7 separate regions of the Homo sapiens genome follow, and all the other regions are reported to be linked to region 5. The links are microRNA targets in miRTarBase. Many come from high-throughput screens and were not tested one by one. Region 5 holds a microRNA gene; each other region holds the end of a gene's coding sequence.

The links. The annotated mature microRNA hsa-miR-122-5p reads UGGAGUGUGACAAUGGUGUUUG and lies in region 5 at 802-823, shown strand. An mRNA with a match to its seed (bases 2 to 7 or 8) in the 3' UTR can be bound and repressed. Matches are read on the target gene's strand: a 7mer-m8 pairs with bases 2 to 8, a 7mer-A1 pairs with bases 2 to 7 and ends in A, and an 8mer does both.
Region 1: the mRNA of EYA4 is a reported target of hsa-miR-122-5p. The part of its 3' UTR that is shown has no 7-base or 8-base seed match.
Region 2: the mRNA of FBXO27 is a reported target of hsa-miR-122-5p. Seed matches in the 3' UTR shown: 7mer-A1 at 1,979-1,985 and 7mer-A1 at 1,683-1,689.
Region 3: the mRNA of GLOD4 is a reported target of hsa-miR-122-5p. The part of its 3' UTR that is shown has no 7-base or 8-base seed match.
Region 4: miRTarBase lists STAU2 as a target of hsa-miR-122-5p. The part of its 3' UTR that is shown has no 7-base or 8-base seed match.
Region 6: miRTarBase lists SUCLA2 as a target of hsa-miR-122-5p. Seed matches in the 3' UTR shown: 7mer-m8 at 797-803.
Region 7: the mRNA of FIG4 is a reported target of hsa-miR-122-5p. The part of its 3' UTR that is shown has no 7-base or 8-base seed match.

The regions. Positions count from the first base shown.
Region 1 is chr6:133,528,222-133,531,307 of GRCh38, reverse strand. It overlaps EYA4 (EYA transcriptional coactivator and phosphatase 4), which reads right to left. Exons shown (of 20, transcript NM_004100.5): 20 at 1-2,583. The coding sequence ends at 2,503. The region is part of intron 6 of TARID (TCF21 antisense RNA inducing promoter demethylation); the gene reads left to right. Among named protein-coding and RNA genes, the nearest start is that of EYA4-AS2, 73 kb to the right of the region's middle.
Region 2 is chr19:39,022,592-39,025,591 of GRCh38, forward strand. It overlaps FBXO27 (F-box protein 27), which reads right to left. Exons shown (of 6, transcript NM_178820.5): 6 at 1,430-2,963. The coding sequence ends at 2,820. Among named protein-coding and RNA genes, the nearest start is that of FBXO27, 8.5 kb to the right of the region's middle.
Region 3 is chr17:757,299-760,395 of GRCh38, reverse strand. It overlaps GLOD4 (glyoxalase domain containing 4), which reads left to right. Exons shown (of 9, transcript NM_016080.4): 9 at 158-1,066. The coding sequence ends at 223. Among named protein-coding and RNA genes, the nearest start is that of GEMIN4, 6.6 kb to the right of the region's middle.
Region 4 is chr8:73,418,618-73,421,714 of GRCh38, reverse strand. It overlaps STAU2 (staufen double-stranded RNA binding protein 2), which reads left to right. Exons shown (of 15, transcript NM_001164380.2): 15 at 250-1,346. The coding sequence ends at 343. STAU2-AS1 (STAU2 antisense RNA 1) reads right to left here and starts at 1,641. Exons shown (of 3, transcript NR_038406.1): 1 at 1,476-1,641.
Region 5 is chr18:58,450,287-58,453,383 of GRCh38, forward strand. It overlaps MIR122 (microRNA 122), which reads left to right and starts at 788; the gene lies at 788-872. It overlaps MIR122HG (MIR122 host gene), which reads left to right. Exons shown (of 3, transcript NR_170245.1): 3 at 533-995. It overlaps MIR3591 (microRNA 3591), which reads right to left and starts at 866; the gene lies at 794-866.
Region 6 is chr13:47,940,576-47,943,672 of GRCh38, reverse strand. It overlaps SUCLA2 (succinate-CoA ligase ADP-forming subunit beta), which reads left to right. Exons shown (of 11, transcript NM_003850.3): 11 at 228-1,017. The coding sequence ends at 302. Among named protein-coding and RNA genes, the nearest start is that of LINC00562, 9.5 kb to the right of the region's middle.
Region 7 is chr6:109,824,887-109,827,980 of GRCh38, forward strand. It overlaps FIG4 (FIG4 phosphoinositide 5-phosphatase), which reads left to right. Exons shown (of 23, transcript NM_014845.6): 23 at 202-540. The coding sequence ends at 379. Among named protein-coding and RNA genes, the nearest start is that of FIG4, 140 kb to the left of the region's middle.

The sequences.
Region 1 (3,086 bases), not on the chromosome of region 5:
GCCAAGCTGTGATGCTGGCTCGTGGGCCTGCACCATTGTTGTGCCAGACAAGCTGTTCTCCGTCAACCTTGCATTTAGGTTTTATGCCGGCAGCCTCTTCTGAACACAGAATCAGAAAAAGAGATGTGTGTGAGAAACTGCACGGGGTGATGCAACCAGCCGGCTTCTCTTTGCCCTTCCAAGGGGTGTTTCTTTCTGCACCCACAGACTTAGCAGCATAAAAAGCCTTGCTTGTTTGATATGAAAAGACTTACAAATTTAGATGTAATGCCACAATTCTATCAACATTTAAAGAAACCAGCTATACAGTAAAGATAATTTGTTTTTATTCACAGTAATAAATATTTAAGGTTTTAGTGCACAACATAATTAAGTACTGATAATCAAGGCAACATTTAAATTTTTTTAACTGCTATTTTCAAGCTAAGGGCCAACAGAAGTATAAGATTTACTATCATTATTTTTATATTATTAAAGGTATTCCAACTTTAATTTGCCTGGAATAGTACTTGGGGCAGATGCAGCCAAAAGCTACAAAATTTAAAGGATTAAGTTTAAGGTTTAGATAATGAAATCACAATCTTGTACAAAATTGGGATCTCAATATCTTTCTACCCAATATAAACATGGCCTTAGCATTCAGTAAAGAAATACAGGTTTGTAGCCTAAAGAAATGAAATCATATTTCCACAGTGAATGTTGTGATCTGTGAGCAAAATGTAGACTTTATTGAAGCCACAGAGGCCTCAGTTGATGAACTCATGAACCAGCCTCTGGCTAGGGGCACTGACTAGTAGCCTGACTCCAGGATCCACATTATGACATTTTAAACACAGAACTGCAGGTGCAGACACCATAAAAATACTCTAGTTCTTAAAGTCTTAAATTTCCACAAGGGAAATCGTGTCATAGGAAATAAGAGGAGAACCTGTATCGTGTTCCCAACATGGGCTACACACAAGGAAAAAAACCATGCAAACACAACGATGATGGGCTCTTCTTGTAATGAATGCCATCCGTTGCGCAGTGACAATACAGGCAGAAACTAACAAACATATGCAAGTCTGTTACGAGGAGAACCTGCATTGATGTATTCAGATGGAGAACCAGGTATTATTTTACTGTTGTCATTTCAGCAGCGCTGCCAAGATCCAGCGCACTTGCTAATTTAATTTATGATGATATTCTAGGTAAAATTTTCATAGACTCATTGCTTTCATTAGACACCATCTGGGAGAACTGCCTTCCATTTCTGATGATATTATCATTTTTGCCATGGCATTGGGAATAAACATACTTAGCTTTATTTTAAGCCCTGTGCACTCAATGTGAATTTTATGCCATGTTCATGGCACATTCTAAAAAAGTTTATGTGATAATTGCTCATGATTTGCATGATAATATCCTCCTCTATGCAACTTACACATATCAAAAGTCTCAACCTCAAAACTGTGCAAGTTGTCATGAATATGGCTCTTAGTTTTCTCCAGTAAAACTGTAGAAGGGGTACTTGAGACTTCTACATACATTTCACTTTCTAAGTAAAGGTCCCACAGTCTTTCCCAAACCTTCCACTCATGGTTGGATGCGCAAATAGTTGCCTCATACAATTATTGGAATTATTAAGAACCCAAATGAAACACAAGCTTTCCTTTATTATTGTTGTTTTCTTATTGCAAAAAATACTCAGTTTCTTGCTGATGCGGTAATTAAGCTCTGAGAGCTTGACTTTTAAATTTGGTCATGTTAAGAATCATCACAAAGGTTTTTTTTTTTGTTTTTTTTCATTATCTACAGAGATTTTAACCAAAGTTACATTGTAACACACAAATGCTGTCTTGTCTTTAAGGCACAACACATCAGTATGAACATTCTGTTTGCCAAACTTAAAAAAGAGACAATATTATATTCCCATTTCCCCTCCCATTCCCCTCCCCAACAAAAGAAAGAAAAATTGCATCCACTTTGAAAGTCAGCTGCTAATAAAGTCACAGTAAATTATTTTCATCAATAATTTACACAAATTACATGTCTAAATAGGACTGTCCTTATACAGTCTGAGTGCATTCCAATTCAGATTTTCTGGGTTAGGTAGGCTAAAGTCAGATTCAAACCTCAGGGCTGAGAAGATCTCCCATTTTGAGGAATGTTGTTGACCACCTTGTCAGACGGAGCATGTGTGTTGCTGCTTTGCCAGGGTAAGAGTTCTTTGCTAAAGCTGCTCATTCCAGTTTGGACTCATTTGGTGTGTACCAGCAACCTCCACAGATTTTTAAAAAACCCATTAAAGTGTTGTAAATATAAGACCATAGAGTTTCTTTTCTGTAGCACTAAAGTTTAACTCCATTCAGCAATCTGAATTCTTCATTCTGGAATTTTTATTCCAAATATGATTTCATCCATTAAGACAATTTATATGTGTAGAGCCAGAGGCATTGAATCACACATAAAAATTCAGTGTACTTGAAATATAAAAAATGGATCTCCGGCTAAAGAACACAGTTACAAATACTCTAATTCCAGTGCTTGGTGGAGAGCCAGGAGGTCTGAGTGACTGGATATCCTCCAGAAGGGCATGTTGTGCTGTGTGGTTAGGAGAAGGAGGGATGGGAGAGAGAAGGGGAAGGAATGAGGCATGGAGAGAGATCACAACCATTGTCTCAATGAAGCAGCAGCACACACAGGGATGTGTGGTCCACCCAAGTTCAGGGGAGAGAGTTTAAAGGCGGGATGATCATATGTGAAGGCTTGGCAGCACCAATATGGCACTGTCAAAGTAACAGAGAAATAGATCTGAACTGGATTTTAATGAGAATAATAGCAAATATTAACATTTCTTAGATAGTTTAATATTTATTCTGGAAGTATCGCTACCAACATCAACATCTGGGAAAGCAAGTGGGCATCAAAATCCTACCTGGCTAATGGAAAGCAAGTTTTAATCAGTGCATCACTCCTACGGGCCTCTCAATTAAAAATAAAATGAAACAAAATGACAAACTTCTTAATTTTGTTAATCTAGGAAGAAAAGAGGGTGAATTCCTTTCTGTATAAAAATAATTTGAAGCAGGACTACATAAAGTAGA
Region 2 (3,000 bases), not on the chromosome of region 5:
GTGTGCCTCCATGCCTGGCTAATTTTTTTGTTTGTTTGTCTGTTTTTGAGACAAAGTCTCTGTCGCCCAGGCTGGAGTTCAGTGGAGCGATCTTGGATCACTGCAACCTCTGCCTCCCGGGTTCAAGCGATTCTCCTGCCTCAGACTCCCAGACAGCTGGGATTACAGGCACCTGCTGCCACGACTGGCTAATTTGCATTTTTATTTTATTTATTTATTTTTTGAGACAGAGTTTTGCTCTTGTTGCCCTGGCTGGATAGCAATGGCGCGATCTTGGCTTACGGCAACCTCTGCCTCCCAGGTTCAAGCAATTCTCCTGCCTCAGCCTCCCAAGTAGCTGGGATTACAGGTGCCCACCACCATGCCTGGCTAATTTTTTTTTTTTGTATTTTTAGTAGAGATGGGGTTTCGCCATATTGGCCTGGCTGGTCTCGAACTCATGACCTCTGGTGATCCATCTGCCTCAGCCTCCCAAAGTGCTGAGATTACAGGTGTGAGCCACCATGCCCAGCAATTTTTGTATTTTTAGTAGAGACGGGGTTTCACCATGTTGGCTAGCCTGGTCTCGAACTGACCTCAAGTGATCCACCTGCCGCGGTCCCCCAGAGTACTGGGATTACAGGCGTGAGGCACCAGGCCCAGCCTCCCGAATATTTCCAATCTACAGTTGGTTGAATCCACAGATGCAGAAGCTAGCCACATGGAGGGCCAACTGTGTATGTTTATCTTATTCTTTTTTTCCCATCTGGCTTATCGAAAGCTTTGAGCTGGCCGGCAATAGATTTAATTTCTTTTACTCCCAGTTGGAGGAAAGAGCACCTATAAACTGTTTACTGTCTTTGACCCACCAAAAACTCATTTTGGGAAAGTCTTGGCCCTTTCTCTTGCAGCCTACAGAAGAGAGGGAAAAAAGCCAAAGGTGTCACTTGGGCCATGCTTTTCTTCCTCATTGTAGCCAGCACTCACCAAAATCAGCCAGGGGATCCAGGGAGTCAGCTCTCTAGAGGCTGGACCTATTGTCTTTTTTTTTTTTTTAATTTGAGACGGAGTCTCGCTCTTTCGCCCAGGATGGAGCGCAGTGATGCGATCCTGGCTCACTGCAACCTCCACCTCCCGGATTCAAACGATTCTCCTACCTCAGCCTCCCGAGTAACTGGGATTACAGGCGCGTGCCACCATGCCTGGCTAATTTTTTGTATTTTTAGTAGAGACAGGGTTTCACCATGTTGGCCAGGCTGGTCTTGAACTCCTGACCTCAAGTGATCCGCCCACCTCGGCCTCCCAAAGTGCTGGGATTATAGGTGTGAGCCACTGCGCCCGGCCTCAGCTAGTGTTTGCTTTCGTACAGTTTTCCCTCCTCAACTGGGACTACTTATGATTCTCAACCAAGGCAGTAACTCTGCATTTCTATTAAAAAGATCTGAAGTGGTTTTGGCAAAATAAGAAATTTATTACATATGATTGGCAGATACATGCTGCTGATATATTATTCTTACTGTTTGAAAAAAAGTCAAAATAAAAATAATGTTATTTTAATTTTAAATACCACACAATTACAGGTCCTTGAGGATCAGGGTTGGGCTCAGGGAATTACCTCGTTTTTTCAGAGAAACCAGAGTGGGCAGAACCATCTCCAAATTCTTTTTTTTTTTTGAGACAGGGTCTCGCTCTGTCACCCAGGCTGGAGTGCAGTGGTATGATCATGGCTCACTATAGCCTCAACCTGGGCACAAATGATCCTCCCACTTCAGCCTCCCAAGTAGCTTGGACTACAGGTGTGTACTACTGTACCTGGCTAACTTTTGTATTTTTTGTAGCGATGGGGGTCTTACTACATTGCCCAGGCTGGTCTTGAACTCTGGGGCTCAACTGATCCTCCCACCTTGGCCTCCCAAAGTGCAGGGATTACAGGTGTGAGCCACCCTGCCTGATCCAAACTTTTTCTTTTTGAGACGGAGTCTCGCTGTGTTGCCCAGGCTGGAGTGCAGTGGCATGATCTTGGTTCACTGCAGCCTCTGCCTCCCGGGCTCAAGCAATTCTCCTGCCTCAGCCTCCCGAGTAGCTGGAATTACAGGTGCACACCACCAAGCCCGGCTAATTTTTTGGATTTTTAGTAGAGACGGGGTTTCACCATGTTGGCCAGGCTGGTCTTGAACTCCTGACCTCAGGTGATCCGCCTGCCTCAGCCTCCCAAAGTGCTGGGATTACAGGCATGAGCCACTGTGCCTGGCCCAAACTTTTTTTTTTTAACGTAGACTTTCAGCTGCATGACCTGGTCCCAGCCCTGTAGCTCGGAAGCCCCAGGAGGTGAGGTTCACACCCTTAGGGCTGGGACTCTCTGAGCCCTAAGGATGAGATTCTAAGTTCAGAGATGAGTTGAGGGCTTCCCTGAAGGGACCAAGGAAGTCCCTGTGGCAGAAACAACAGGAGACAAGAGGTCAGTGGTGCGGAGGGGAGGGGATGGTACAGAGGGGCCTGGGGCTGGATCGGAGGGTTTTGGTTGGGAGGAGAAGAGAGGGGAGGGCAAGAATTCTTCTCCAGGATGGGCATTCCCCCATGCTCACTTGTGGGTTTCCCCTCAGTACAGTAGGGCCCCCCCGCAAAGCAGCAGCTGCAGTAGGTAGATAAGATGGAAGAAGCTTCTTCTGGTAGTTTCTAGAACCTGAAGACAGGGCCCGTCAGGGCCTTTGATTGGACCCAGGAATTCTCAGTATGCCAGGGAGGTACAAGTGCTTGGTTGGTTAATGAGGGGTCCCAGCCAATGGTCCCAGGCCCTGGAAGGCACAGTCAGGCTGTCTTGCAAGAAGGGTAGTGCTGGACTAGGACAGACGGACTCGCACGATCACACTGGAGTTGGTCACACGGGCTCCATAGTGGCCAGCCCAGAACTGTGTGTCCTGGCCCCGGTGTTCGAAAGACACAAAGCGGACGCCCATCTTGATGTTGGAGAACACGTGGGTGACCTGTAGGCAGAGGAGGGGCTCAGCTCCATTGTGCCAC
Region 3 (3,097 bases), not on the chromosome of region 5:
TTTTTTATTTCTCTTCTCTTTTTTTTGGAGCGGGGGTTTGGGTCCTTTTTTTAATGTTAATTTTTTTTATTGTGGTCAGTACAGTGAGATATAAAGTGGGCTATGTCTTTTGTTTTTCAGGCTTGGAGTCAGTGTATATTCTATTTCTATTTTACAGGCAATGGCAGCAGATAAAAGTGACGAGTGGTTTGCCAAACACAATAAACCCAAAGCTTCAGGTTAACGGAAGACATGATGCAGAGCAAGCCTCTGTGATTCCTGCCCAGCACCTGTGAGGCCTGACGTGTCAGTTCCCAATAAATGCTCTTCTGATTTGTTTCCCGTACAGGCAAGGAGGCTTGGGTAGTGCAGATTTGTGTATTTCAATCTTTGAAAGCTCTGATGTAATTTAGAAATGAAATCCAATCATGAGTCCAGGTAGAGAACGCCTGCTGTAATCTACACTGTTGCTGGGACTGCGCATTCTGTATATAACTGTGTTGGATGAGTGACAGATGATTGTCCAGACTAGGACAGCGGCATGAACATGACTTTGGTTGGGATTGCGGATAGTTAGGGTTACCTCTGAATCGTGTAGCTTTTATGAGAGCAGCTGTGCAAGTGAATCCACATTAATGCCTTGTCGTGGTGCCATTCCCAGCGCCTGACGATACGCTCTTCTATTGTCTTATTCTGGCAGGTTTTGACGTTTTAAATTTTTTAAAGAAATTTTATTCCTTGGACCAAAAGGTTTGGTTAACCACCCCCCTCTTACTTGCTTTCACATTTTGAGTGTCCAGAGGAAACAGAAAGGAATGAGTGTGTGACGTTGCTGCACGCCTGACTCTGTGCGAGCTTCTTTCTGTGTATATATTTTGTTTTATTTTTTTCCGTGTATATTTTTAATCCCGACAGAACATCATGTGAGATTTCTTTAAAATGGATTAAACGATTTCTTCAGCCTGAAAAAAAAGGTTTTGAAAATGTTTTCTTGTAGTTTTGTTTGGTTCTAAACAACAAATAGGTTTTAATCACTCGAAATGGAATTATATTGTGTATTCATTGAATAAATTTTTTTTGAAAGTAAGCTTCTGAAATCAAGCTGTGATACCAGTCTCTAAGTCTCATCATGTAAAGTGGTGGCCAGGTTCAGATTTTTAAAAATAAACTTAGGAGATTGGAAGGGATTGACTCAGAGGATCCTGGTTCCCAAAGAACACATAGAGAATTACTTGTAAATCGTAACCTCTGCTTTCCTCCCTTACTGGCAGGGCGTAGGGCATCGAAATTTTGGTTGTATTTGAGCTTATCTTCTTATAGGGGTGATGCTATTATACCTTCACGGAGAGAAATAAATTCTCATCCAGCTCTACAACTTTTCATTCAGCTTGAATTCCATATCCTAGGGAAGCAGTCTTGAGTTTCAAAGCAAACCAAGTTATATATATGGCCCTCCTCTAGGTAATTGGTTCTTTTTATTTTTTATTTTTTTTTTTTGAGACAGAGTTTCGCTCTTGTTGCCCAGGCTGGAGTGCAATGGCGTGATCTTGGCTCACTGCAACCTCCGCCTCCCGGTTTCAAGCGATTCTCCTGCCTCAGCCTCCCAAGTAGCTGGGATTACAGGCATGCGCCACCACGTCTGGCTAATTTTGTATTTTTAGTAGAGATGGGCTTTCTCCGTGTTGGTTAGGTTGGTCTCGAACTCCCGACCTCAGGTGATCCACCTGCCTCAGCCTGGGATTACAGGTGTGAGCCACCGTGCCCTTCTCTTTTTTTTTATACATGTGGAAATTATTATATGAACTTTGAATAACCAGGTAAACTTCTGCTTCTCTTTAGAATGTATGTTAATTTTCCAATTTTCTATTAGATTATTAAGTAATTTTTAATGTTCATCTCTAGTAATATTGTCCTTGTGAAAAGAAACTCCTTTTCCCAGTGTATTGGGCTGCTATAATGTGGCCCTCGAAGTTTGTTGTAGTAAAATAAGTGGTTTATATAAGTACCGAATAACTAAATAACACACACAGGTTTCCCTTTTATCTGCTTATCTTGTATTTTGGCGTACCAAAACGTTTTTCTCCTAAATATACAACTGTGCATGATAGTGGGCACCATGCAGGGTGAACAGTAATGCTGTTTGTCTGCATAGGACATTTTGGCTTTAGGAGATCTGCCTCCTTTTATTTATTTCATTGCCTGTCATGTCTCGCTTTGTTGCGTTTTGTTTTTGCTTTTGTTTTTGTTTTTTTTTAAGACGGAGTTTCACTCTTGTTGCCCAGGCTGGAGTGCAATGGCGCAACCTCGGCTCACCGCAACCTCTGCCTCCCGAGTTTGAGCGATTCTCCTGCCTCAGCCTCCCAAGTAGCTGGGATTACAGGCATGTGCCACCACACATGGCTAATTTTGTATTTTTAGTAGAGACGGGTTTTCTCCATGTTGGTCAGGCTGGTCTTGAACTTCTGACCTCAGGTGATCAGCCACCTCGTCCTGTTGGCGTTTTTTAACATTTTATTCATCCTAAAGCCCTCTAGTGTACAACTTTGGCTTTTTATCAAGGCATCCAGAAGCTTGCTTCTGCACAGTTCAGCTAAGTAATTCTAAACCAAAAAAGAGTAATTTTTAAAAATTATTATTTAGGCCGGGCGCGGCGGCTCAAGCCTATAATGCCAGCACGTTGGGAGGCTGAGGCAGGCGGATCACCTGAGGTCGGGAGCTCGAGACCAGCCTGACCAACACGGAGAAACCCCATCTCTACTAAAAATACAAAATTAGATGGGTGTGGTGGTACCTGCCTGTAATCCCAGCTACTCAGGAGGCCAAGGCAGGAGAATCCCTTGAACCTGGGAGGCGGAGGTCGCGGTGAAGCGAGATCACGCTGTCGCACTCCAGCTGGGCACCAAGAGCGAAACTCCGTCTCAAAAAAAAAAAAATTATTTAGACGCCCATTAGATCCGCAAAAACTAATTTTAAACAAAAGTGATTAGTTTCCCACATCTGGGGGATATGATCAATTAGAAAATGGCATGAGGAAGATAGCTTTGCCCAAGCTGGTGTTTCATTTTTGGTTTTTGAGACATTGCTCTATCACGCAGGGTGGAGTGCAGTGGGGCACCAT
Region 4 (3,097 bases), not on the chromosome of region 5:
GAAAACATTTGGTAAACAGACATGGCATTTTAAGTTGTCTATAGATTGTCAACCATTTATAAGCTAATTTAATCAAAAACATTTCCACATGATCTCATCAGTAGACTATCTGAACATAAATATTGTTGTTTCACTTTAAAATGTCACTTTTGTGGTGACCTTTGAATCCTCTGTGCCATCTGCTAATAAACATGTCTGAAGATGTGCAACCCCAGGCCTTCAGCTCTTGTTAATGTATTAATCTTTCAGACAAGCCAAGCATCTGAGAGAGAAAGCGGACAATAACCAGGCACCCCCGGGCTCCATCGCTCAGGACTGCAAGAAATCAAACTCGGCCGTCTAGCAGCTCCCAGAACCCGCGGCTGCCACCGCATCCTTATAAACCTGTCAGCACGCATGAGGGTGTCTGTGTTCAGGGAAATGAATGACTAATACCATTATTTGAGTCTTATGTGAAGACAACACTATTCTAACACGAGAGATAATATACATGGTACTGTTTATTCAACTGGGGAAAAATAAAACTTTGAGCATTTCCCTTGGAACTCGAGATCAGATCATAACTCATTTGCCTAGAGGCAGCAGAAATCTGATCCTGCTACTGGAGCTTAAAATAACAAGTAAAGAAAAGTGTTAGAAACAAAGCTAAAATTTTAACATGATTAATAATAGAGAAGTTGGGTTTGGTTCTGTTGTTATGATTGTTTTGTCGTGGTGCTTGTGTTCAGTTATATTCTCTCTCTCTCTCATTTCAAATACTGCTTGACAATTCGAAAATGAACCAATGATGTGCTGTGGAATGTGATGGTTGTCTTCATATAGAGTCACATGGTTTCTCTTTTTATGCAGATATTTATAATCTTCATCCTATATCAGTAGGAATAACTATAAGGTGCACTACAAAAAGATGTATGCAAACAAACATGTTTTAAATCAGGTCAGATATCTGATGAAAAATACGAACTAATGTTAAGAGCAAGTAGTTTCAACATACTCCAGGAACTGAGAAACAAAACAAAGCAATTGTGGGTTTTGAGCTCCATATACTCTTAGCAAGTAAGGGGGCGTCTTGCCCCTATATATCATCTTCCCGGATTCCACTCCCTGTTGTGGGAATCGCGCCCACCCCCATCCGTGTGTTGTAGCCACTCACGGTTTGCATCAAGAGTGTTTTTTGTAACTGCCTCTGGACTTGGGACAGTGAGTAGGATCAAAAATAAATAATGTACATGACGGGGAAGGGAAAAACCTGTTGGAGTTGCTTCCAGCCAGCCACGCTCCGGGCCAGCATGTTGGAATCCAGCGTGGAGCAGATGCAGTAAAAATGTGGTTGGTTTCTGTGTGAAGCGCTGTTGTTGTTCTTTTGTTCTCTCACTCTCATCTTTTAAATATCACCTCCGTGAAACCCATCCGAAAGGCCACCACCCGGCCTAGTCACTGCCCAGCAGTGGGATTAGAGAATGGATAGGCTGTACCTGAGAAACTGCAGAGCCGCCTCCTGGGTGACTCGGGCCGGGTTCCTGGCCAACGTCATCGCATTGTTCAGGCTTTCTCCTTATTGATTTGCAAACATTGTGCAATGAGAAAACACTACATGGTCTAACTGCTCGACCCAACATGACAATAGGAATATAATTATGTAAGATTTCACAAGCAAAACCACCACAAATCATGATCTGGCTGACTCACACGCGACTGGAGAATAAACAAACAGCAACATAAGGAAATAACTCTAGGGTTGTTTTTAATGATTCCCATGTGGGGAAGTCCGTCAGTATTGGGAGGGCTGGGTGCCCTTGGAGGAAATAGGTTATGTTACATAAAGCTGAGTCCTTGCGAAAAAAAGCAGCACATTTGTAAAGTTGGGGCTCACAAAGGTAAACTGGATGGAAACCCAGTCCTGCTGCCTGACACCAGGGCGCAGATGGCCCTAAATCATTCCCTTTGAAGGGCGCAGGCCCTTCCTTCTGCTAGGCCTTCGCCACCTGAGGTTTAGACCCTCAAATGGGGCGAGGGACTGCTTCAGGCAGGATCATTGAAGTGGATCTTCAGTTTACCCAATGCAATAAACACAGGCTCCCTCCGGCAGCCCACATCAAACTACACCAAGGCTGTCAGGTCTATAGGAGAGCAATGAGCTCCGGGAACAAACCCAGCTAATCAGTTCTCACGACGCACGTATCTGAAGGATTTAACTCTTGAGCTGTCTGACACAGCTTATCCTTAGATAAGTCACCCTTAGACCCGATATATCCATGAATACAGCAATGGTGGTGGGGGCGAGGGAATGGAAATTTGCATAGGAGCTCAAGCTTAGTGATAGCTTATTTATTCAAATCCCATCCTCTCTACCTGCTCACAGAGTCCAGGAAGGCCTTCGGGTATTTTCTCCTGCACAGCAGCACTTCCTGGGAACCGCCTGGGTTTTCTTTGGGTTGAATTACCAATGCAGATGATGGGTGGCCTGCAGTTGTTGGCAGGGACCCGCTGCAACGCTCGGTTCCAAAGAGCAATGTTATATATCATTAGAGGGAAACCATTAAGTAGATTTATTGAAAGTATGTTTCTTCGGCACAAGGAGATCTTTTTGATGAAAAATGGAACTCATTATTCTCTAAAGGACACAGATTGACTTATCTCCGTTATCAATTACAGTGTCTGCTTTCAGCTTGTCTCAATCAAAGCACTGGGCTTTGTAGTCGCTTTCCAGAGCCGAGGCCAATGTGTTTTATGAAAAAGGTTTATTTTTACATTTTAATTGGAAATATAATATTGTACTTTGGAACTCTGACCATCCTTTCCAGGACAACTTGCCAGAGATCAATGGTGAGACACCACCCATCAGGCTGTGACAGACATCTCTCCCCTTTCCTGGGGTGACCCCTCTGATAAGCTGTCCTAGAATTCTTCTCCCCAGAAAACATGCTTAATAGTGATTCTTTTTGACAGCTTCAACCAATTTCCTGTACCATAAAATAAAAATAGCTTAATGAAAAACTTACCTTATTATACAGAGGTTTTCAGGGCTCCTAGTGACTTTGGAAACGTGGCCCAGACCAACTGACTGGTACTTAAATCCTGCTGCAGGTGGGTTATC
Region 5 (3,097 bases):
GAGTTCACATAACAATTATAAACCATCTTTAACAGGAAAGCCAAGTAAATCCTGTAGGGATTTATTTGGAGCTCCCTTTTTGCTAGAAAATGAGTATCATGAACTAAAAATGGACTCGTTTCCTCTCTCTCCATCTTCCTCTCTTTCTTCTCTCCCCTCATCTCCCACCCACCGCCATGGTGGAAAATGACTGTGGTCAAGAAGATTGAACATTTGAGCAAGACCAGATGCCTTTATATCCAATAGATGCCACGGAGAGTAGATCACAACACATCTAACTGCTGTATCCCCATATAAAATAATTTTAATTTTCCTAGACTGCAGAATTGATCACATTTACTGATGATGGATTGGGAAGTAGGTGAAGAGGTGAGAGTTGGAGAGTATCCATTCATTCGGCCAGATTATTCTCATTTATAATGTAGTCTTCCAATAAGTATTTATTTCCAGAAATCTATTCCCTCTAGAGATTCTTTCTCTCTCAGCCATTTTAGAAAATTGTTGCAAACAGAGTTCCTGTCCATTTTCACAGGAAGTTTTTGCAGAAGGGGTTTGCTGGGTGGCAGTGGAACACAGGCAGTGGACCCCTCTACTACTCTACTGTTCCAGAACACAGAAGCCTTTCATTGAGAGTGTTCAGCTCTTCCCATTGCTCAAGATGCTTGTACCCGTGATGCTTCTTTTCTCTGCTTAGGTCACAATATGTGGAGCTGACAAGGTTCCCCTATTATCAGTGACAATGGTGGAATGTGGAGGTGAAGTTAACACCTTCGTGGCTACAGAGTTTCCTTAGCAGAGCTGTGGAGTGTGACAATGGTGTTTGTGTCTAAACTATCAAACGCCATTATCACACTAAATAGCTACTGCTAGGCAATCCTTCCCTCGATAAATGTCTTGGCATCGTTTGCTTTGAGCAAGAAGGTTCATCTGATATCAGTCTTCTCAATCTTGTGTACTTACTGAATAAAGTCTGGCTCTTTTGCACTCATAACCAATATGGTTAGCTGAACCCTGCCTCTCACATGCTGTTGTTACATACCTTAGCTGGTGATTAATTTTCTTGTTTTCCCAAGTCAATAAAAAGATTGCAGACCAGGCACGGTGGCTCACGCCTGAAATCCCAGCACTTTGGGAGGCCAAGGCAGGCGGATCACTTGAGCTCAGGAGTTCAAGTCCAGCCTGGGCAGCATGGTGAAACCGTGTCTCTACAAAAACTACAAAAATTAGCCAGGCATGGTGGCATGTGCCTGTAATCTCAGCTACTTGAGAGGCTGAGGTGGGAGGATCAATTGAGCCCACGAGGTTGAGGCTGTAGTGAGCTGTGATGGTACCACTGCACTCCAGCCTGTGTGACAGAGCAAGATCCTGTCTCAAAAAATGAAAATAAAAAGATTGCAGAGTTCCTCAGAGCCCCCAACACAAGGCCAGGCACGAGGTAATCATTTAACCCATGCTTATAGACTTAAAATGAATAGTTAGGAAAGTGTTAGACGCAGAAGGCTAAGACTGGGCTAAATCTATGTTATGCAGACAGACCGCAAGCTTATAGGTACAAAATTAAGGTGTGTGGGTCCTTCTCTTTTCGTCGTTAAAAAATCCAACTTTCTAATAAACTTACACATGGTTTCACTGACGTTTCAGAAATTCTAGAATATGTTTGATTTCTACTGATTTCAATCAATTACTAGGCTGATTACTGAATTCGTACACTAGGCCTTTCTTCCTCTTGCATCAGTGAATTACCATCAGAAAATTGTTTATGAAGCATGTGTGAGCTGCCATAGCAAATCTGGGACCCATGCAGTTTCTAGGACAGTTGGCCCAGCCAGGTGCTCTGGTTTGGAACCCATTCTGTCTCTGAGAGGTGTCTAAAGTCAGGAGTAGGTTTCGTTTGTGCCAGACTAAAGCTTCCCTCCCCAGGCTTGGTTAAATGAAGTAGGACATGTTTAATCAAATAGACAGGGTTAGATCAACCATCAGAAACAAATTCAACCATTCAACCATTCACTTATGAAATAAATATGTGTAGAGACTACCGTGTGCCTGACACTGTCCTAGGCATTGAAGACACTTTTAAATTAAATGTGTCTGATGTTATTTCCAGAGATGGGCATTCACTGGCTCGCATTATATTTTGGGACCATTGTAATTGTTCCAAACGGGAGCCAAATGAGCAAAACTTTGCGAAATAATTCTGAGTCCCTTGCTGGAAAGCCTCACCTGAATGCAGCCCACACATTTATGATACACTACAAAGGCTTCAAGGTCATGAGATGCCTCTGTCCAAAGAAGAAGAAGAGCACCCCTGCCTGCCCTGCATCTCTTACCACCTCTCATTTCTTCCCTCCTGGCACCATCTACTGTCAAGAAGAGAATCAGACTCCCTGAAATAATTGAGACACTGACATTCCTTTTTGTGTGTATTTTTTTGGCAAAGGCTCTAATTGAACAGGCATTAATAGAGGGCTCTACTGTTATACAGATCACGCTCATGCACACTGTATTAGTCTGTGTTTTCATGCTGCTGACAAAGACATACCCGAGACTGGGAAGAAAAAGAGGTTTAATTGGACTTACAGTTCCACATGGCTAGGGAGACCTCAGAATCATGGCGGGAGATGAAAGGCACTTCTTACGTGGCATCAGCAATAGAAAATGAGGAAAAAGCCAAAGTGGAAACCCCTGATAAACCCATCAGATCTCGTGAGACTTATTCACTATCATGAGAATAGCAGGGGAAAGACTGACCCCCATGATTCAATTACCTTTCCCTGGGTCCCTCCCACAGCACGTGGGAATTCTGTGCGATACAATTGAAGCCGAGATCTGGATGGGGACTCAGCCAAACCATATCACATGCCATTTCATTTGATCCATACAACATGGGGCAAAGATGATCGGTTTGACAAACAGAGTCTAAAGGGTTCTGGAATCGTCTGGTCCTCCAGCCACAACTCAACATGGATCTCTTAAGTCTAAAGTTCTGTCCTGTACCTGCAGCCTCCTTTGGCCTAGTTATTTTGTGAAATCTCATGCTTCACAGTCGAATCTGTGTAGAACCTGGGTTAATCACGCCAGTATGCGATCAATATCCTCA
Region 6 (3,097 bases), not on the chromosome of region 5:
TAACATCTTAATCAGAAAGTATTTAATTGAAGTTTGGACTATGAGGAGTGTCAGACTTGATTATCCTTTGAGAATGTCATTTGCTTATAAGAACGTAATGTGATTTATAGCAATGTCAGAATAGTCCAGATGTTTTAAATGGAAAAAATTGAGTGTACATTAATTTTGCACTGACCTGTAGTTCTGAATTTACCTTTTTGTGAAAATTCTTCGTTCTTTTCTTTTAGGTTGTAAAGCTCTCTGAAATAGTGACCTTAGCGAAGCAAGCACATGTGGATGTGAAATTTCAGTTGCCAATATGATCTGAAAACCCAGTGGATGGCTGAAGGTGTTAAATGTGCTATAATCATTAAGAATACTGTGTTCTGTGTTATTGTTCTTTTTCTTTTTAGTGTGTGGAGATTGTAATTGCCATCTAGGCACACAAACATTTAAAAGGATTTGGACTGCATTTAATTGTACCATTCAGAATGGACTGTTTGTACGAAGCATGTATAATGCAGTTATCTTCTTTCTTTTGTCGCAGCCAGTCTTTTTTGCTTCTCCTACAAAACGTAACTTGCAATTTGCCAGTTTATTATTGTTGGATACAAAGTTCTTCATTGATAAGAGTCCTATAAATAAGATAAATACGAAGATAAAGCTTTATTCTTTAGTGTTAAAATACAGTATATCTAATAACTAGCCTCATTAGTAGAGCAGTATATTAAAACAATGTTTTATGTAAAAAGTGTTTATCTTCAGCACCAAATACATGATAAATGTATCAATCACTATTTATAAACAGAGCTTTCAAACACTCCTCAGAATATTCTTCTAAGTATTTTGATGAAGTAACTTTGTAATTATTTGAACATTGTTTTAATCATTAGGAAACACTGATTAACTGCAAGTCTTCATGATTCTGTCATATTAAGAAACACCTGTAGGTTTGCTTCAAATAAAGGCATATATACCAAGGACTTACAGACAAAATTAAGAATGTCAATTTAAGTTAATAAAAATCTCCCAATATGATTTGGGTTCATGGCTTTTGTTTGCTTGTTTTGAGGTAAACACAGTAGAAGTTGATTTGTTCGTTATTGCAGTATAGAGGTCTAAGCACCAATTCTTAGATCATATACTTGCCATGACAGTGATTTGTTTTTTTTTTTGAGTCAGGGTCTCACTCTGTCACCCAAGCTGGAGTGCAGTGGTATGATCATGCTCACTGCAACCTCTGCCTCCTGGGCTCAAGCAGTCCTCCCACCTGAGCCTCCTAAGTAGCAGGGACTACAGGCACACACCACAAAAAAACATATGTGTTTTTTTTTGTTTTTGATTTTTGTTTTTTTTTTGGTAGGGACAGGGTATCACTATGTTGCTTAGGCTGGTCTCTTACTCCTGAGCTCAAGCAATCCTCCTGGCTTTGCCTCCCAAAATGTTGAGATTACATGTATGAACTACTGCACCCAGCCAACCATACATATTATACAGCTACTTATAGATAGATAGTTCACTGGAAGTCTGCTATTTATGTGTATGCCATCTAGTATATCCTCTAAAGGAAACAGAGGGGAGAATTGAATCCAAGATGCCTAACTTCAAAGCCTTTTCTTAACTATTTTACTGAGGAAGAGAGAAGCTGAGTTTATTTTTTGGTCTTGGACATGTCTAAATTTGTATGATGTTTTTGTTTTTGTTTTTGTTTTGAGATGGAGTCTCGCTCTGTTGCCCAGGCTGGAGTGCTGTTGCACGATCTCAGCTCACTGCAAGCTCCGCCTCTGGGGTTCACACCATTCTCCTGCCTCAGCCTCCCGAGTAGCTGGGACTACAGGCGCCTGCCACCACACCCAGCTCATTTTTTGTATTTTTAGTAGAGGCAGGGTTTCACCGAGTTAGCCAGGATGGTCTTGATCTCCTGATCTCGTGATCTGCCCGCCTCGGACTCCCAAAGTCTGTATGATGTTTTATATGGTAACAGGTGGATATTTTTAGACAGATTGTAGTCACATGGTTCTTTTTGTCCATATATGTAAATATATGTGTGTGTGTATATATACATATTGACCTTTTGCTCACTGCATAAAACTTGGTAGTTAACTAATGCCATGGAAGGAAATGTTGACCAAGCAGTAGACTATTTAACCATACTGATGGATTTAAGAACTTCTACCTATTGTGATGTTCTTAAAGTGTGATCAGATGTATATACTATGAGAGGCAGCATAACGTAGTGATGATGAGCACAGACTTTGAAAGTAGACTGTCTGCTTTGAATCTGGATCCACTACTTACTAGCTGTATGAGGGCTTCTTTTGTTTTTTGTTTTTTTGAGACAGGATCTCAGTCTGTCAACCAGGCTGGAGTGCAGTGGCACAATCATGACTCACTGCAGTTTCAATCTCCTGGGTTCAAGTGATCGTCCTGCCTCAGCCTCCTTTTGTAGCTGGGACTACATGTGCATGCCAACATGCCCAGCTAATTTATTTTTTATAGAGATGGGGTCCTGCTACATTGCCCAGGCTGGCATCAAGCAGTCTTTCTGCCTTAGAGTAAGTTTTAATGCTAGTGTCCCTCAGTTTACTTAGCTCTTTTCTTATCAGTGAAGTTTATTTAGTAAGGGAAGAGAACAAAAATATGTGAGAGAATTTATATGTAGAAAACAATATGTATTTTTAGCCAAATATATATTTGGTAGTTTACATATATATGACACAGAGTATCAGAGCCATAAACCATTTAAAATTATAGCCAGGTGCGGTGGCTCACGCCTGTAATCCCAGCACTTTGGGAGGCCGAGGTGGGTGGATCACCTGAAGTCAGGAGTTTGAGACCAGCCTGGCCAACATGGTTAAACCCTGTCTCTACTAGAAATACAAAAATTAGCCAGACATGGTGGCGGGCGCCTGTAATCCTAGCTACTTGGGAGGCTGAGAGAGGAGAATCACTTGAACCTGGGAGGCAGGCGGAGGTTGAAGTGAGCTGAGATCACGCCACAGCACTCCAGCCTGGGCAACAAAGAGCAAAACTCCATCTTAAAAAAAAACAAAACTTGTGATAATTAAAAGTCCAGTCATTTAGTTTTTACTTTTTAAAGATTCATTCCAAAGAATAC
Region 7 (3,094 bases), not on the chromosome of region 5:
CCAGAGGTGTTGGTCCAGCTCTCTCCTCCAGGCAGAGAAGAGAACCAGCCTCGCAAGGACTGGGGAGGTCATCCCAGCAGCTTGTCAAAAGTCAGCCTGCTTATTCAATGCCAGCGACTCTCAAGTGCTTCTGAGACTGCTCCCTGTGGTCCTTCCTTATATTTTCTTTAATGCAGCCCTCTCTTTATTCATCTTTTATAGAACACCCATCTCGGCTTTCTCGCAAGATAACATCTATGAAGTTCAGCCCCCAAGAGTAGACAGAAAATCTACAGAGATCTTCCAAGCCCACATCCAGGCCAGCCAAGGTATCATGCAGCCCCTAGGAAAAGAGGACTCCTCCATGTACCGAGAGTACATCAGGAACCGCTACCTGTGAAAAGAGCGCAGGTCCACCTGGTGGACACGTCTGATTAGCTTAGAACCTGTCTTGTCTCATCTTCAAAAGGTAACTTATTAAAAGTCCTTTGCGTCTGAAGCCTTTCTCCTTTTCTGTCACTTGCAAATTCCAAATTATAGCTAATAAAGATGACTAGATAATTTGCTGTTGTTGCCTTTGCTTTATTTTAGAAATACTTTGTTTACAAATGTGGTCAATATACTATCACACCATCACATTAAGAAATTCACAGGTATCTGCTGAGCACCTGCTGTGTGCCAGGCACCATGGCAAGGTCTAGGAACATCCCAGTAAGCAAAACAGGCCAAAAAATTCCTCTCTTGTGAGGAATGAAGGCAAAGTATTTTTCTTATCTTTATCCGTGAAAGCAAAGTATTGTTTCCTTGTAGTTAACATTTTGACATTTATTCTGGTGGCTTCTATGTTAACTTTGTATTTTGATCAGAAATTTCATTATTCTAAAAGGCCTTGTTTATAGGAAACAAATGCTGAAATATTTATGGATAAACGGACAAGATGTCAAAAAAGTGTTCTCCAGTGGTTCAGGATAAAAAGAATGAATGATAAATCAAATGGAGCAAAATATTAATAACTTGTAAATCTAGGTAAAAAGTAAACAGGAGTTCTTTGAGCTACTCGTGCTGCTTTTCTGTAAGTATAAAATTATATCAAGGCTGGGCACAGTGGCTCACGCCTGTAATCCCAGCACTTTGGGATGCTGAGGCGGGGGGATCACCTGAGGTCGGGAGTTCAAGACCAGCCTGACCAACATGGAGAAACCTCGTCTCTACTAAAACTACAAAACTAGCCGGGCGTGGTGGCGCATGCCTGTAATCCCAGCTACTAGGGAGGCTGAGGCAGGAGAATCGCTTGAACCTGGGAGGTGGAGGTTGCGGTAAGCCAAGATCGGCCATTGCACTCCAGCCTGGGCAACAAGAGTGAAACCCGTCTCAAAAAAAAAAATTATATCAAAATAAATTGTTAAAATTATTATTCCAGTTGACTTCCTGTGGCATGCAGCTGCGTTACATACTTTGACATTTGGTGTTCAGTCAGGTGTTGACTGATCACAGCACGTGTTTTGTTCTCTGTATAGTCAAACATGAATGTGGACAACTTTCTGCATTTCCTAACAGTTTACCACAAATGATTTGATCTCATTATGTCTATACTTTTGTTACAGACTGTCCCATTCTCCCTCCCCATAAATAATATAGAGAAGAAAGCCAAGCCTTCTAATGGGAGAAGGAAAACTGGTTAGCCAAAATGACCTGTGAGCTATCACCAACCCTGACATGCTGGGATTCTATGGAAGGTTTTATATTGCAAAGAAAGGTTAAGTCCCCATTTGACAGATATTTTTGATTGATGCCATCATGAAGTAAAGATTAGAGAATGACAAAATAATAGGTAAGAGGAATTTTGCCTTGGCGCAGGTTGAATATCTAACACAATAGCTTGCTGTTGTGTGTGGGGGTGGGATCTCACGTAAATCTTCCCAAGTCAAAGAATAATCCCAAATTGCTGCAGAGGTGCCAATTATAGATCAGACACTGATCTTCATTTTTAAAATTTATTTTTAACATGGCTTCTAGAGGTCCACCTACTTAGGAAAAGAATGAACTTAAAGTTCTTTGAGAAGATCTGAAATCCAGATCTTCTTTCACAACCTCCCTGAGCTTAACTTTCCATAGCTGTAAAATGAGGATAATAATCCCTGCTCTACTGGCTTATTATGGCACTTAAGAGACTCTGCATGTAAAACATACAGCCATGGTTCCATGGTTCCTGGCACATAAATGATGCTGTCAATGGTAGCTGCTGTTGATGATGGCAGTGGTTGGTATTGGTGACAGTGATGGTGTCCTCAGCACCAACACCCCGATATTTTCAATTTAAGGCATCCGTGTATGTCCTTTTCAGAGTTAACACAATTTTGATGTAACAAGGTGGTATCTGAGCTATTACTTTTGACATTCAGATTACTTAACTTTGGATATACAAGGAAGGCTTTACAAATTGGTAGCAAACCAGACATAACATTTAACCTCTAGAAAAAGGTTAGTGATCTCAAGGAGCATGTAAACAAAGTAAATGCGTATCTGAAAGTACTAAAAAGCTAATATGTCATGGAAAATATAGAAACTGCTCTTATTTGTAGACCCAAAGGGAAGCAAATATGGTTAAGAGCAGGAGCTTTGCTCTCCATCACTTACTAGTAGCTGTGGGTCTTTGAGCAATCACTTAGCATCTCTAATCCTCAATTTTTTCATCTAGTATAGATAGTTGCTGAGAGAAAGAAGATACCTGTAAAGCACTGGGCATGGTGTCTAGCACAGCGTAAATATTCACTAAAAGATCACTGATCACATATAATCACCAGCACTTGCTAACCTGGTACCTGAGCATCATCTCGGAACAAGGTTATATATTAATGCTCACCATGTCCTAGTCACTGAAAAAGGAGAAGATGTCCTAGTTCAGCTTGGCATTGTAGATTTTAATTCTTTAAATAAGGCAATCTAAATGAATCTGGAGACACAGTAGGTCATAAATTGAAATCTCAGCAAATTATGGCGAGATCCCATGAAATAAAATTTTGTTGGTTGTATACCCAAGGGCAAAGCATTCACATTAAAATAACAATGTGAACTTCCTAAGGGTATGCGTGTGTGTGTGTGTGTGTGTGTGTGT